2 linked regions of the Homo sapiens genome follow. The protein of the gene in region 1 interacts with the protein of each later gene in a biochemical or structural test. Each region holds a gene or a part of one and is shown in the gene's direction. Other genes may lie near its edges.

Region 1 (7,017 bases):
TAATTTAAGACAAAAGAGACGGTAATGGTAGAAAAGAGATAAAAGAATTGAAAATTGTGACTGATGTTAGCAGCCTTGAATGTACCAAATGACCAAGGGTATCAGAAGAGAGATTGGTAAAAATAATAGGTTCTAAGAAATTGATTATAAAATAGGATCCTAAGCAGAAAAAATGCATCCTGAGAATCTCTAGTACCCCATTATGTTCTTCACTTAGTAGTATGCCATTTCTCCTCTTTTCACTAATTCTTTTCCCCCTTTTTTCCCCTACAGACATTCCATACACCAAGCTTGGGTGATGAGGAATTTGAAATCCCACCTATCTCCTTGGATTCTGATCCCTCATTGGCTGTCTCAGATGTGGTTGGCCACTTTGATGACCTGGCAGACCCTTCCTCTTCACAGGATGGCAGTTTTTCAGCCCAGTATGGGGTCCAGACATTGGACATGCCTGTGGGCATGACCCATGGCTTGATGGAGCAGGGCGGGGGGCTCCTGAGTGGGGGCTTGACCATGGTAAGGGGCAAGACATTGTCAGGCTTACCCCAGCTAATGGGCATGGCATTAGGGGAGACAAAGTTACTCTATTCCCTGCTACACTTGGGTATTACTTGTTTCTCTTCTTGTGGCTAAAGGCTCACCAACAAAGACTTAATTTCACCTGAATAAATGAAATTTACCATGTAGGTAGATTTTACTTGAAAAATAATTTAAAATTGTACAATGTCTGGTTTGAAAATTATTTATTGTGGTTTTTGGGAAAAAGTGTTTTCTGCTTTTATTATGGCCTTCACATCCTAGGATTCAAATTTGAATGTGATAGCTGGCACACGGAGGGATTTATTCAAAAATGGCCTGAATCACGTTGAGCAGCCAGCAGAACAGAGCTTAAAAAAAAAAAAAAAGTCTGAGCCAAATATAGTATTGTGGATTAGTATGTAATATAAATCAGTATATTGGGCTTCCAGCACATCGAACCAGTAAGCACATCTTCATACTCTATATTTGATGCCAGACTTTAATATTGGCCTTATTTATGCTGATTGCCTATGTATTACAATTTTAAAAGCTATTATTTTGGGAGAGTACAGATAGGAAGTTTTTCTTTACTCAATGTGTTGTCACTACCTATATATTACTGAATAAGTTGATAGCTCTTTGACTTGTCCAACAGTGCGACTTCTCTGATTATTTTTAGTTCTTCTTTTGAGTGCAAAGAAGTAAATTCATTAATTTCTGTACTTTTTTAAAAAGCTTATTTTTTTATTTTCATTTTTGAAGACTATTTTATGTTTTGTATTTTAAATGATACAATTTGGGTAGGCAGGGAATTTATAAGCTGTCTTAAATTTAGGGGGGAAAAGTGGTTTTTTTTATATTTAGTGTTTAATTAGTCCTTCTGCTTCTCTCAGGACTTGGACCACTCTATAGGAACTCAGTATAGTGCCAACCCACCTGTTACAATTGATGTACCAATGACAGACATGACATCTGGCTTGATGGGGCATAGCCAGTTGACCACCATTGATCAGTCAGAACTGAGTTCCCAGCTGGGTTTGAGCCTAGGGGGTGGCACCATCCTGCCACCTGCCCAGTCACCTGAAGATCGTCTTTCAACCACCCCTTCACCTACTAGTTCACTTCACGAGGATGGTGTTGAGGATTTCCGGAGGGTGAGGCATTCCCTGTCAAAATCAATTCTGCTGTGATAGTCTGGGATAAAATTTTTGGGATACAGAGCCTAATCAGTATTCTTTACCCTTGCCGTGCCATCTCCTCTGCTGTTTTCTGGGTATGGGGTTCCACCTCCCAATTTCCAGTTTATAATTCTCCTCTCAATCCCTATTCTTATTGGTTCTCCATATTTGACTAATGTCTTTTAATGCTATTTCTATGATTTTTAGCATTTCTGAAAATTCCATACATGTGGCTAGTTTCCAGACATAATACTTGTCATTGTCCATTGTGTAATTCTCTCTTTTTTCTCTCCTACAGCAACTTCCCAGCCAGAAGACAGTCGTGGTGGAAGCAGGGAAAAAGCAGAAGGCCCCAAAGAAGAGAAAAAAGAAAGATCCTAATGAACCTCAGAAACCAGTTTCAGCATATGCTTTATTCTTTCGTGATACACAGGCTGCCATCAAGGGACAGAATCCTAATGCCACTTTTGGTGAGGTTTCAAAAATTGTGGCCTCCATGTGGGATAGTCTTGGAGAGGAGCAAAAACAGGTGAGCAAATATTGAGGAACTAGTAGTGAATGTTCCAGAAGTTTTTAAAGAGATAAAAATTGAGGTTTTCTTTTTTCTTACATGTCCTTATCTAATATCAGCTGTTTGTTAATGACACTTAAATATCATCCCTTGTCTTCGAAGTTGCAGCCATACACTCACTCCAGAAAACCTATTTAAATTTTTTTTTTTTGAGACAGAGTCTCGCTCTGTCACCCAGGCTGGAGTGCAGTGCCGTGATCTCAGCTCACTGCAAGCTCCGCCTCCTGGGTTCACGCCATTCTCCTGCTTCAGCCTCCCGAGTAGCTGGGACTGCAGGCGCTTCCACCACACTGGGCTAATTTTGTTTTTGTATTTTTAGTAGAGACGGCGTTTCACCATGTCAGCCAGGATGGTCTCGATCTCCTGACCTCGTGATCCACCCGCCTCGGCCTCCCAAAGTGCTGGGATTACAGGCATGAGCCACTGCGCCCGGCCTATTTAAAAATTATTAATAGGCTGAGTGTGGTGGCTCATGCTTTTAATCCCAGCACTTTGGGAGGCCAGGGCAGGAGGATTGCTTGAGCCCATGAGTTCGAGACCATCCTGGGCAACATAGGGAGACCCCCGTCTCACAGAAAATTAGCTGGGTGTGGTGGCATGTGCCTTTGGTCCCAGCTGTGGAGGCTGAGGCGGGAGGATTGCTTGAGTTCAGGATATAAAGGCTGCAGTGAGCCATGTTTGTGTCACTGCACTCCAGCCTGGGTGACAGAGCAAGACCCCGGCTCAAATAAATAAATAATAATTGTTATAGGCCGGGCGCGGTGGCTCACGCCTGTTAATCCCAGCACTTTGGGAAGCCGAGGCAGGCGGATTACGAAGTCAGGAGATCAACACCATCCTGGCTGACATTGAAACCCCGACTCTACTAAAAATACAAAAAAATTAGCCGGGTGTGGTGGCATGCCTCAAATCCCAGCTACTCAGGCGGCTGAGGCAGGAGAATTGCTTGAACCCGGGAGGCAGAGGTTGCGGTGAGCCGAGATCATGCCATTGCACTCCAGCCTGGGCAACAAGAGTGAAACTCCATCTCAAAAAATAATAATAATTGTTACAGAAGTACTGCATCTTTACAATAACTCTCAAAAATAGCTACCATTTCCCGCTTTTAAGGTGGAAACTGGAGCCCACTGCCCAGTTAAGGTCATATAACATTTAAGTGGTAAAGTTGAGACACAATCCAGGTTCTTTAACTCTTCCCATGTACTTTCCACTAATAATGTCTCCTATAATTCCTCATGTAGTGTCCTTCTGTTCAATTTTTAGATATTTAACTTTTCTAAGTCTCATTTTTTCCCCCATTTATAAAATTAGGCTATTACTTGATAAGCTGCATGCTGTGGCTAACTCTCAAATCCACTACCAAGTTTGGATTTAGAATTACTTGTTTGTTTGTTTTTGAGATGGAATTTCGCTCCTGTTACCCAGGCTGCAGTGCAGTGGTGCAATCTCAGCTTACTGCAACTTCCACCTCCTGGGTTCAAGTGATTCTCCTGCCTCAGCCTCCCAAGTAGCTGGGATTACCGGCATGTGCCGCCACACCCAGCTAATGTTGTATTTTTAGTAGAGACAGGGTTTCACCGTGTTGGTCAGGCTGGTGCCAAACTCCTGACCTCAGGTGATCCGCCTGCCTTGTCCTCCCAACGTGCTGGGATTACAGGTGTGAGCCACCGCACCTGGCCTATTTTTTTTCTTTCTTTTTCTTTTTTGGATTTAGAGTTTAAAAACTTTTTAGAGCTAGCCCAGATTCAAAGGAGGGGGAAATAGGCTTCAGCTCTTGAAGGGAGAAAGGTCATATGGGAGGAGTTGTTGTGGCCATCTTTGCAAACAATTTACCACATTCCATAAGGGAAAATATACTGGTTAGACACAGTCCCAGGCTAAGACACAGTTTTTGGATTAGGGTTTATTTTGTATTTATTTATTTATTTTTTTGAGACAGAGTCTCACTGTGTCGCCCAGGCTGGAGTGCAGTAGCACAATCTTGGTTGACTGCAAGCTCTATCTCCCAGGTTCACGCCATTCTCCTGCCTCAGCCTCCTGAGTAGCTGGACTATAGGCGCCCATCACCACGCCGGGCTAGTTTTGTTTTTGTTTTTTTTAGTAGAGATCGGGTTTCACCAGGTTAGCCAGGATGGTCTCAATCTCCTGACCTCGTGATCTGGCCACCTTGGCCTCCCAAAGTGCTGGGATTACAGGCGTGAGCCACCGCACCTGGCAGATTAGGGTTTATTTTTGTTACAGAAGTGAGCATGGGTTGATGTTTGCCTTAAATGTAGCTATTCTCGGCCAGGCGTGGTGGCTCACGCCTGTAATCCCAGCACTTTGGGAGGCAGAGGCAGGCGGATCACAAGGTCAGGAGATCGAGACCATCCTGGCTAACACAGCGAAACCCCATCTCTACTAAAAATACAAAAAATTAGCCGGGCGTGGTGGCGGGTGCCTATAGTCCCAGCTACTCAGGAGGCTGAAGCAGGAGAATGGCATGAACCTGGGAGGCAGAGCTTGCAATGAGCCAAGATCACGCCACTGCACTCGAGCCTGGGCGAGAGAGCACGACTCTGTCTCAAAAAAAATTTAAAAAAAATAAAATAAATGTAGCAAAATAAAATAAATGTAGCTATTCTTGCCAGACTCCTGTCGATTGGTTGTCTTTCAGAGGTATGCTCAGTGGAGTGAGTCTGCCATGGAGGTTGTCTTGACTGTTAGCTTTCAGAATTGAATTCACTGATAGAGGTTGTCAGTGATTAGACTAAGATGAATTGTCATTCATTGATAAATAATACAGAACTATCAGTCTTTCCTAAGAGTATGGGGAGTTTTGTTTTTTTTTTTAAAGTCTCTTTTTTGCAGGTATATAAGAGGAAAACTGAGGCTGCCAAGAAAGAGTATCTGAAGGCACTGGCTGCTTACAAAGACAACCAGGAGTGTCAGGTAAGAGGGATAGGATAGAATGAATATTTAAACCAGTAAGAAGTTTTTTGGAAGTGTTTGTTAGCAGTTTTAAGAAGTAAATACCACCAAGTGATTGATTAATTGATAGATTGATTTATGTCTTCTTTTAGGCCACTGTGGAAACAGTGGAATTGGATCCAGCACCACCATCACAAACTCCTTCTCCACCTCCTATGGCTACTGTTGACCCAGCATCTCCAGCACCAGCTTCAATAGAGCCCCCTGCCCTGTCCCCATCCATTGTTGTTAACTCCACCCTTTCATCCTATGTGGCAAACCAGGCATCTTCTGGAGCTGGGGGTCAGCCCAATATCACCAAGTTGATTATTACCAAACAAATGTTGCCCTCTTCTATTACTATGTCTCAAGGAGGGATGGTTACTGTTATCCCAGCCACAGTGGTGACCTCCCGGGGGCTCCAACTAGGCCAAACCAGTACAGCTACTATCCAGCCCAGTCAACAAGCCCAGATTGTCACTCGGTCAGTGTTGCAGGCAGCAGCAGCTGCTGCTGCTGCTGCTTCTATGCAACTGCCTCCACCCCGACTACAGCCCCCTCCATTACAACAGATGCCACAGCCCCCGACTCAGCAGCAAGTTACCATTCTGCAGCAGCCTCCTCCACTCCAGGCCATGCAACAGCCTCCACCTCAGAAAGTTCGAATCAATTTACAGCAACAGCCTCCTCCTCTGCAGATCAAGAGTGTGCCTCTACCCACTTTGAAAATGCAGACTACCTTAGTCCCACCAACTGTGGAAAGTAGTCCTGAGCGGCCTATGAACAACAGCCCTGAGGCCCATACAGTGGAGGCACCTTCTCCTGAGACTATCTGTGAGATGATCACAGATGTAGTTCCTGAGGTGAGCCTTTGTTTTTAAGTCTTTAGTCTAGTGGAAATGTATAAAAATGTTTTTGGTTGACCCAATAACAGTGGGGGTTGCTACTAGCATTTAATGCCCAGCAACCAGGAGCACAAAACATCCTGCAGATGGGAGTTCCTTGCAGCAGTTGACTTCTCTTACCCAAGGTACTCATACTGTTTTTTTTTTGTTTGTTTGTTTTTGAGATGGAGTTTCACTCATTGCCCAGGCTGGAGTGCAATGGTGCGATCTCGGCTCACTGCAACCTCTACCTCCTGGGTTCAAGAGATTCTCCTGCCTCAGCCTCCCGAGTGGCTGGGATTACAGGCATGTGCCACCATGTCCGGCTAATTTTGTATTTTTAGTAGAGACGGTTTCTCCATGTTGGTCAGGCTGGTCTCGAACTCCTGATCTCAGGTGATCTGCCTGCCTCGGCCTCCCAAAGTGCTGGGATTACAGGTGTGAGCCACTGCACCCGCCCTGTTTTGTTTTGTTTTGTTTTGTTTTTCTTGAGACGGAGTCTCGCTCTGTTGCCTGGGCTGGAGTGCAGTGGTGTAATCTTGGCTCACTGCAATCTCCACCTCCTAGTTCAAGTGATTCTCCTGCCTCAGCCTCCCGAGTAGCTGGGATTACAGGCGCCCACCACTACACCCAGCTAATTTTTTGTATTTTTATTAGAGACAGAGTTTCACCATGTTCATTGGGCTGGTCTTGAACTCCTGACCTCGTGATTCGCCCGCTTCGGCCTCCCAGAGTGCAGGGATTACAGGCGTGAGCCACCGTGTGCCCCATAGTGTTTTTAGTGAGATACATTAAGACAGTCTTCTGCCCCAGACCACTCCTTAACTAAGCAGAGGTCACTAGTTCAACTGGACAGGATATAGCCTAAACAGTTATTATTCAGAGTTGTTACCCAAGGATCCTAAACTTTGGACAT
Region 2 (7,748 bases), on another chromosome or scaffold:
GCCCTGTGCAAACACAGACACATCCCATCTCAGTGTCACAGACACTCCTGGGTTTGGAATTTTGTTGTTCTCTGTCTCTTTGATTTCCTGGAAGACGACACCATGACAATTTCAAAGAAAATAGAACAAAATGAAGGAAAAAGAGGCTCTGTCTTAGCACATTCCTGTGACCAGCCTGCTGTCTGTGGTGTGCCCTCCTGGCCCGGCCTTGGCACATGTTCGTTTTTGTGGTTGTTGCCTGGACAGGCAACTCTGCAGGGCTGCTTCTCTACGCATCCCTTTGCCTGCCTGCCTGTGCCAGGGGTTGTCAAGGGCTTTTGGGTCAGAGTGGGCACCCCTTTCTCCAAGGCTCCCTGCAACAGCTGGCCTGTCCCTGGTGGGGCTGACAGCTTCCTTCTCACCCTGCCAGGCTGCCCAAGCGCCAGAGGTGACCTATGAGGCAGAAGAGGGCTCCTTGTGGACGTTGCTACTCACTAGCTTGGGTGGGTGTCTGGGGCTCACCAGGCCTCCTGCCCCGCTCACCTCCTATGAGCCAGGGCCCTGGGGGGCTGGGGGAGGGGCCAGGTGGAGATCTCCAGCGCTGGCTCCTAACAAGGGAGGGGGTGGCAGGGCCGTGGTCGGCTGGGCCGTGGTCAGCAGGTGTGTTTTTGTGCAGATGGGCACCTGCTGGAGCCAGATGCTGAGTACCTCCACTGGCTGCTGTGAGTACTGGAGTACTGGGGGTAGGGGGTGCTGCCCAGGCGGGAAGAGGAGCTGGGAGCCTGGACTGAGCTGCTCCTGAGTTTCATGGACTACCCATGGGACCTTGAATTCACCTGCCACCTCTGCCTCCTGAGGGTGTTAGGGGCCCTGGGATCCACGTGTCTACTTGAAGACAGCTACAGGAGACAAAGTTTGCAGTAGGCCTCGGTCAGTCCCCACAAGCCTCCTCATCTTTTCTTTTCTTTTTTTTTTTTTTTTTTGAGACAGGGTCTCACTCTGTCCCCCAGGCTGGAGTACAGTGGTGCAATCATGGCTAATTGCAGCCGCTAACTCCTGGGCTCAGGTGCTCTTCCCACCTCAGTCTCCTGAGTAGCTGGGACTACAGGTGCAAACCACTACACCCAGCTAATTTTTGTATTTTTTTATAGAGACAGGGTTTCACCATGTTGCCCAGGCTGGTCTCCTGAGCTCAAGCGATCTGCCCGCCTCCGCCTCCCAAAGTGCTAGGATTATAAGCGTGAGCCACCATGCCTGGGCCCTTCGTCTCTAAACTCATTTCTTCACCTGTAAAACTGGGATAATGGCACCACATGCCTTACTCAGCGTGAGGTGGACTGTGACAGTCACGTGGGAGAAGGAGCGGGAGAGGCCTAGCAGCTGTGGCGTCCCCCAGGTGCTCCTTGAACCACTGGGCGCTCCTTCCCTGGGCCCAGACTGGGCGGCCTTCCATCTTGGTAGCTTTTGGCTCTGAACACCAGGCCAGGGGGCAGAGGTCAGGCCAGTGACCCCAACTTTGAGCCTTCTGGTTAACTGGGGACAGTGACTGGGAGGCTGGTTTCCGTCATTTTTATTCAACTGTTACCAGCCTATGCGGCAGGACCCTCTGGGGATTTGTGCCTGAGGCGTTGGCCGCCCCTGTGCCAGGCTGGGCACACACTCCCTGACGAGGTCCTGGAGACTTCAGGACGCAGAGGGAAAAGCAGCCAAAAGTGGCCTGGCTTTCTAGCCTCAGTGACTGTGGCGGACCCACCGGCTCCCGGGGCCTGGAAGCGGCTGCATGGCCTTGCTGTCAAGCTGATGCTCTCTGGAGCCCTGTCCCCCACTCGGAGCTCCTCCAGCCCGCTTCCCGTATTTGCAGCATGTCCCGGCGTTCACAGAGCTTGGCTGCCTCCTCTGTCCCAGGAGAGAGATGCTTAGAGCTGTCCTCCCAGGGAGTCATGTCAGCCTCTAGGGTGTGCATGGAGCTGAGGGGACACTCCTGCTGCCTCCCTGGAGTGGTAATTAACCGGGACTTTCCTCCTCCCAGAACCAACATCCCGGGTAACCGGGTGGCTGAAGGACAGGTGACGTGTCCCTACCTCCCCCCCTTCCCTGCCCGAGGCTCCGGCATCCACCGTCTTGCCTTCCTGCTCTTCAAGCAGGACCAGCCGATTGACTTCTCTGAGGACGCACGCCCCTCACCCTGGTAATCTACACCACCCACACATAACCCGGCCTCAGGCCAGCTCCCCTGGAACGGTCACTCTTGCTCAGTTCTCTCTTGACCTCAGCCTTGAGACTGGCAGAAGAGCAGGATAGGGTGCTAGCAGACTCCCAGGGGCCTCTCAGGGTTACCTGTTGGGGTGGCGGGGTGAGGGGCTCTGGTGCCCCACTCCACACTCTCATACGCTCTCTATCTTCTCATAGCTATCAGCTGGCCCAGCGGACCTTCCGCACTTTTGATTTCTACAAGAAACACCAAGAAACCATGACTCCAGCCGGCTTGTCCTTCTTCCAGTGCCGCTGGGATGACTCCGTCACCTACATCTTCCACCAGCTTCTGGGTAAGGGCCATGGGGCTGGGGCACTGGGTGGGCCTGAGCTCCCAGGCCTCGCCTGCCCTGCCAGGGAGAAGCTTTGTTAGGGGAAGGCTGCGGCAGGTCCCTGGTGGGCAGGCCTCAGCCTGAGGGGGCGCAGGCCAGCAGACCACCCCGTACCCCTCACTCTTCTTGCAGACATGCGGGAGCCGGTGTTTGAGTTCGTGCGGCCGCCCCCTTACCACCCCAAGCAGAAGCGCTTCCCCCACCGGCAGCCCCTGCGCTACCTGGACCGGTACAGGGACAGTCATGAGCCCACCTATGGCATCTACTAAGGAGCCAGAGTGTGCGCATTTCAGAGCATGGGATTGATCGGCAGCAAGAGTAAAGACACAGCTCCAGAGGCCCACACTGTGGGGTCTGGGCCCTGCCTTAGGCAGCCCCCCTCTTTGGCCCCCTCCCGTCAGGCCCAGGGCTTGGAGTGAAAGTGACTCTCAGGTGGTGGGGTGGGGAATGTGAATAAACATGATTTCTTGCCGGGCTTGGTGGCTCACACCTGTAATTCCAACACTGGGAGGCTGAGAAGGGAGGGTCGCTTGAGCCCAGGAGTTCAAGACCAGCTGGCAATATAATGAGACCCTGCCTGTATTTTTTAAAAAAAGGGATTTCTGCCATAGCTGGCCTGGGTCGGTGCTCCAGGGCCAGAGGACCCCGATGGAGCTTCATGGGTGGGAAACGGGCTGCCTCCCACCCCACTAAGTGCGTCCTCACCTCCGTCTTCTGAGGGTGTCAGGGGCCCTGGGATCCGAAGCAAAAGCAGGCAGTGGGCCAAAAACAGGTGTGGCCCAGGGAAGGGAGACATCCCAATCCAGCAGGTTCCTGAAACCCAGCTCCCCGAAAAAGTGGAGCAGAGCAGCTGGGCTCAGGAAGGAGCATTTATTGAGCACTGGCTCTGTGCCTCAGGGGGGTCCCACCGGCCCCTGGAGAGAGAGTGCCTGCCCGAGCACTGACCCTCTGCACAGGCTCCAGCCCCCACCCCATGCTTGGGAGGAGAAGCCACATTAGGTAGGCAACAGCGTGTCTCAAGAGACCTGCTCAGGGTCAGAAAACCCATGGAGTCTTGCGGCTGGATGGTTAGGTGTTTTGTTTCTCCCTTACCAAAAGCAGAAGTCTGGCTAACTAGTAGGTGGAGGGTAGATCCGTGCACTTTGTCCAGAAAGAAACTTCGTCTATGGCCGCACAGAGGACGCAGTGCTTGCTGCAGCAGTGAGAGCTCGTGCCGCCTCAACATCAGCCCAGCTTGGTTAGAAAGGCCGTACTCTCCTGGGGTTCCCCCTGGCCTGATACACACTGTCAGGTAGGTGGGCGCTAGGCCCCAGACCCGCCTTGCCTGCTCAGCTTCAGGGGAAATGCTGGAGTGCCTGTAAATACTGAGGCTGCAGATCAGCTTGGACCCCAGGCAAGGAACTCTCCCCAGCGGAGGGCAGCAGGAAGAGGGGATGCTGATTGCAGATGAAAGCTGGTTTGTGTATTCATTCAGGGCCATTTGAAAAATACCAGTTAACTGGTCCCTGTCTCTTGGTGACCAGACATTTCCATCTCGCTGTTTACTTTAAAAGAACCAAAATTACGTGTAGCCCAGAGAAGGGAGACACCCCAGTCTGGCAAGTGTCCGAAACCCAGCTCCAGGAAAAAGTGCAGCAGTGCTCGGGTCTGCAGGGAGCCCGCCAGCCCGTTTCATCGCCAAGCCCCGGGGGATTGTTGGGGGTGGGGGTCTATGCTGTTAGGCGACTGGCAGATGAGTCCAGAAGAGGTTCCGCGCGGCCCGTGGTCAGAAGCCCGGAGTCCTGGCGGGGTTTTCGAGCCTCTGGTCTCCAGGACCTGGGCTGAAGGCCCAGGGGGGTGGGATGGACCCGCCAGGCTGGGACCCTAGAGAGCCGAACTCAGCTCTCAGCCGGGGTGGCGTGGACCCTAACGGAGGGAGGGGCGCAAGGCGGGAACGCGGAACCTTCGAGCGGGCCAGGCCGAGGTGGGCAGGGGTGGCCTAGGCCCCTGCGGCGGTCGCTCGTCGAGGGTGTCAGAGAAGGGCCTGCCGCCCCCCTCCGCCTTCCCGGGCGCGGATCTCGCCCCGCCCCGCCCGGATCTCGCCCCGCCCCGCGTTAGCCACGCCCAGGCGCCCTCAGCGCGCGAGGCCCGCGGTCCCTTTAAGACGCCCGGGGCCCGCCTGGCTCTCGCCGCCGCCGGGCCATGGCCGCGCAGCTGCTGGAGGAGAAGCTGACCTGCGCCATCTGCCTGGGGCTCTACCAGGACCCAGTGACGCTGCCCTGCGGCCACAACTTCTGCGGGGCCTGCATCCGGGACTGGTGGGACCGCTGCGGAAAGGCGTGCCCCGAGTGCCGGGAGCCCTTTCCCGACGGCGCCGAGCTGCGCCGCAACGTGGCCCTCAGCGGCGTGCTGGAGGTGGTGCGCGCCGGGCCCGCCCGGGATCCCGGCCCCGATCCCGGCCCCGGCCCCGACCCTGCCGCGCGCTGCCCCCGCCACGGGCGGCCGCTGGAGCTCTTCTGCCGGACCGAGGGCCGCTGTGTGTGCAGCGTGTGCACCGTGCGCGAGTGTCGCCTCCACGAGCGGGCGCTGCTGGATGCCGAGCGCCTCAAGCGCGAGGTGACGCATCCGCCGGGAGCGGGAGGGGTCCGGACCCGCCGCAGCCTGGCCACCGCCGGGTGACTCCTGCGGGCCGCGCCCTGCTCTCTCGGGCACCCGGCGGGGGCGGGGAGCCTCATCTGTAAGGGGCTTCTCCCAACCTGGGAGCTGATTATAAAAGTCGTGGGTCTGCCAGGCGCAGTGGCTCACGACTGTAATCCCAGCACTTTGGGAGGCCGAGGCGGGCGGATCACGAGGTCAGGAGATCGAGACCATCCTGGCTAACACGGTGAAACCCGGTCTCTACTAAAAATACAAAAAGTTAGCCGGGCGTGGTGGCGGGCGCCTGTAGTCCCATCTACTCGGGAGGCTGAGGCAGGAGAATGGCGTGAACCCGGGAAGTGGAGCTTGCAGTAAGCCGAGATCGTGCCACTGCACTCCAGTCTGGGCGACAGAGCGAGACTCCGTCTCAGAAAATAAACAAACAAAAAATCGTGGGTCTGTGCATCAGACTGGGATATGCAGCCCGGCCAGTGACACAGGGTGGGTCTCAGAAGCTGCTCGGTGCCCTCTGGATGAACAAAGCCTGGGCGTGAGGCAGCAGCTCCCTGCTCCGTGCCCAAGCGCTAGAGAACCGTCGTGTGTCTCCTGCGCTCCGAGAGCCTCCTTTCATTCGCTGTGCGGGGTTGTGGAGGGCGAGGGGGCTATGGGGGCTGTTGGTAAATGGATCAGACGAGCTCCCTGCCCTTAAGAGACTTAGAATCCACTTAAGAAGTCAGTGTTCCAGTAAGGCGTGAATGTATTATTACAAAATGCAGTGAGGAAAGCACATGGCATGTGATAGAGGGGTTGGGGTGACCCTGCTAAACGGGCCAGGAGGAGGAAGGGGAGGCCGCCTTCAGGCTGGCATGTGAGGATTGAGGAAGCGCAAGCCAGGAGAAAGACCTGGGGAAGAGCATTCTAGGCAGAGGAATCAGCCTGGTCCCGTCTCTGGGATGGGAAAGAACTGGGCACGCGGGGTCCCTAGTGGCAGATTTGTGCCACTGAGATCTGTGGGCCAGGCCCTGGGGGTCAGCAGGGGCAGGATCGGGCAGGGTCCTGGGGGAGTCTGGCTCTTACTGTAGGGTCATGGGGGCCATTATAGGCTTGGAAGCAGGTTGGCACATGATCAGATTTGGGCTTCATGGAGACTGATCACCTGGCTGGGGGCTGAAGGGGGCAGGATGTAAGACCCGAATCGGGTAGGAGTGCAGGGAGGCAAAGAACCAGCTGGGGATCAGGGAAGGGAGACCAAGATGGAGGAGGAGATGAGAAACGCTGAGGGGAAGTGGTACCTTGTGGAGGCGAAAGCAGGCCAGAGGGGACACGGGGGACAGCAGAGAGGGCGGCAAGGGAGACACCTGGGTTTCTGTCTTGAGCACGCAGGTGGCTGGGGTGCTATGTCCTGAGAGGCGTAGGTGGAGGGCAGAGTTTGGCCTTGGACATATAGAGGTCACAGTGGCCAGTGGGACAAACCAGGGGACGGGCCTGTGGCACCTGGGACCCTGGCCCCAGCCCTGCCGCGCGCTGACCCCGCCCCGGGCAGCTGCTGGAGCTCTTCTGCCAGACCAAGGGCTGTTGTGTTTGCAGCTTGTGCACCATGAGTGAGGGTCACCTCCTCAAGTGGGTGCTGCCGCCAGGAGCAGGAGGGGGCCGGACCCCCCGCAGCCTGGCCACCACCGGGTGCAGTGGCTCACGCCTGTAATCCCAGCACTTTGGGAGGCGGAGGCCGGTGGATCACGAGGTCAGGAGATTGAGACCATCCTGGCTAACATGGTGAAACCCTGTCTCTACTAAAAATACAAAAAATTAGCCAGGCCTGGTGGCGGGCGCCTGTAGTCCCAGCTCCTCTGGTGGCTGAGGCTGGAGAATGGCGTGAACCCGGGAGGCGGAGCTTGCTGTGAGCTCCAAAGCTCAGGAGCGGGGAGCTGGAAGTCGAGAGCTGGGAATCATTAGCGCTAGGAGGAAGAGAAGGTTCCAAGCTGGAGCTCCCAGGGAGATGGGGAAGGTCGGGGGAATGGCAGCCCTGTGTGGCACCTGGAGACAGGGGTGCCAGGAAGAGAACGGGCAGGATGCCCATGCTGATCAGAGGCTCAGTACGAGGACAGAAATGACCTTCAGCATCGGTACTGTGGAGGTGGTCCGTGCCCTTGACAAAACCCATTTCAGCAGCGAAGACAGGATGTGGAATCATTCGGGGACAGAGGAGGCCTGGGGCTAAGGCGTGGATGGAGGATGGCGCAGGGACGCTGGATGGGACAGGAAGGGAAGGGGTGGCCAGGAGGCCTGATGGGCAGGGAGGGATGGGAGAGTGCACGGCTGGGGGTCGGTGAGGTGGGAGGACTGAGACAGAGGTGGCTGGAACAGGAGAGGGCACGAAGGCAGTGGTCAGAGAAGGAAGAATCGATGCCTAGAATGGAGATTTTAGAGCTGGTGACAGGGCCAGGGTGAGTTCACAGGAGCGGCTGAGATGAGGTGAAGGAAAAGGGCTCCAGAGTGTTGCGGGACATTCCTTGTAGCTGCTGAAGCCGCCGAGGAGGATGAGACGAGATGTACTGCTCATGGGCGGGT

Evidence for each region. The genes of interacting proteins can lie anywhere in the genome.
Region 2: the proteins of TOX4 (region 1) and TRIM65 form a complex in vitro, tested with the Homo sapiens proteins (one study listed by BioGRID).

The regions. Positions count from the first base shown.
Region 1 is NC_000014.9:21,487,178-21,494,194, forward strand, and holds part of TOX4 (TOX high mobility group box family member 4), read left to right. Parts: intron 1-273; coding exon 274-516; intron 517-1,412; coding exon 1,413-1,673; intron 1,674-1,995; coding exon 1,996-2,226; intron 2,227-5,118; coding exon 5,119-5,199; intron 5,200-5,330; coding exon 5,331-6,080; intron 6,081-7,017. UniProt on the Homo sapiens protein: Transcription factor that modulates cell fate reprogramming from the somatic state to the pluripotent and neuronal fate. In liver, controls the expression of hormone-regulated gluconeogenic genes such as G6PC1 and PCK1.
Region 2 is NC_000017.11:75,893,935-75,901,682, reverse strand, and holds the start of TRIM65 (E3 ubiquitin-protein ligase TRIM65), read left to right. Parts: upstream 1-4,731; 5' UTR 4,732-4,745; coding exon 4,746-5,159; intron 5,160-7,748. Other genes in the region: MRPL38 (large ribosomal subunit protein mL38 precursor), read left to right, coding at 410-482, 656-701, 2,009-2,167, 2,389-2,525, 2,697-2,833. UniProt on the Homo sapiens protein: E3 ubiquitin ligase that plays a role in several processes including innate immnity, autophagy or inflammation.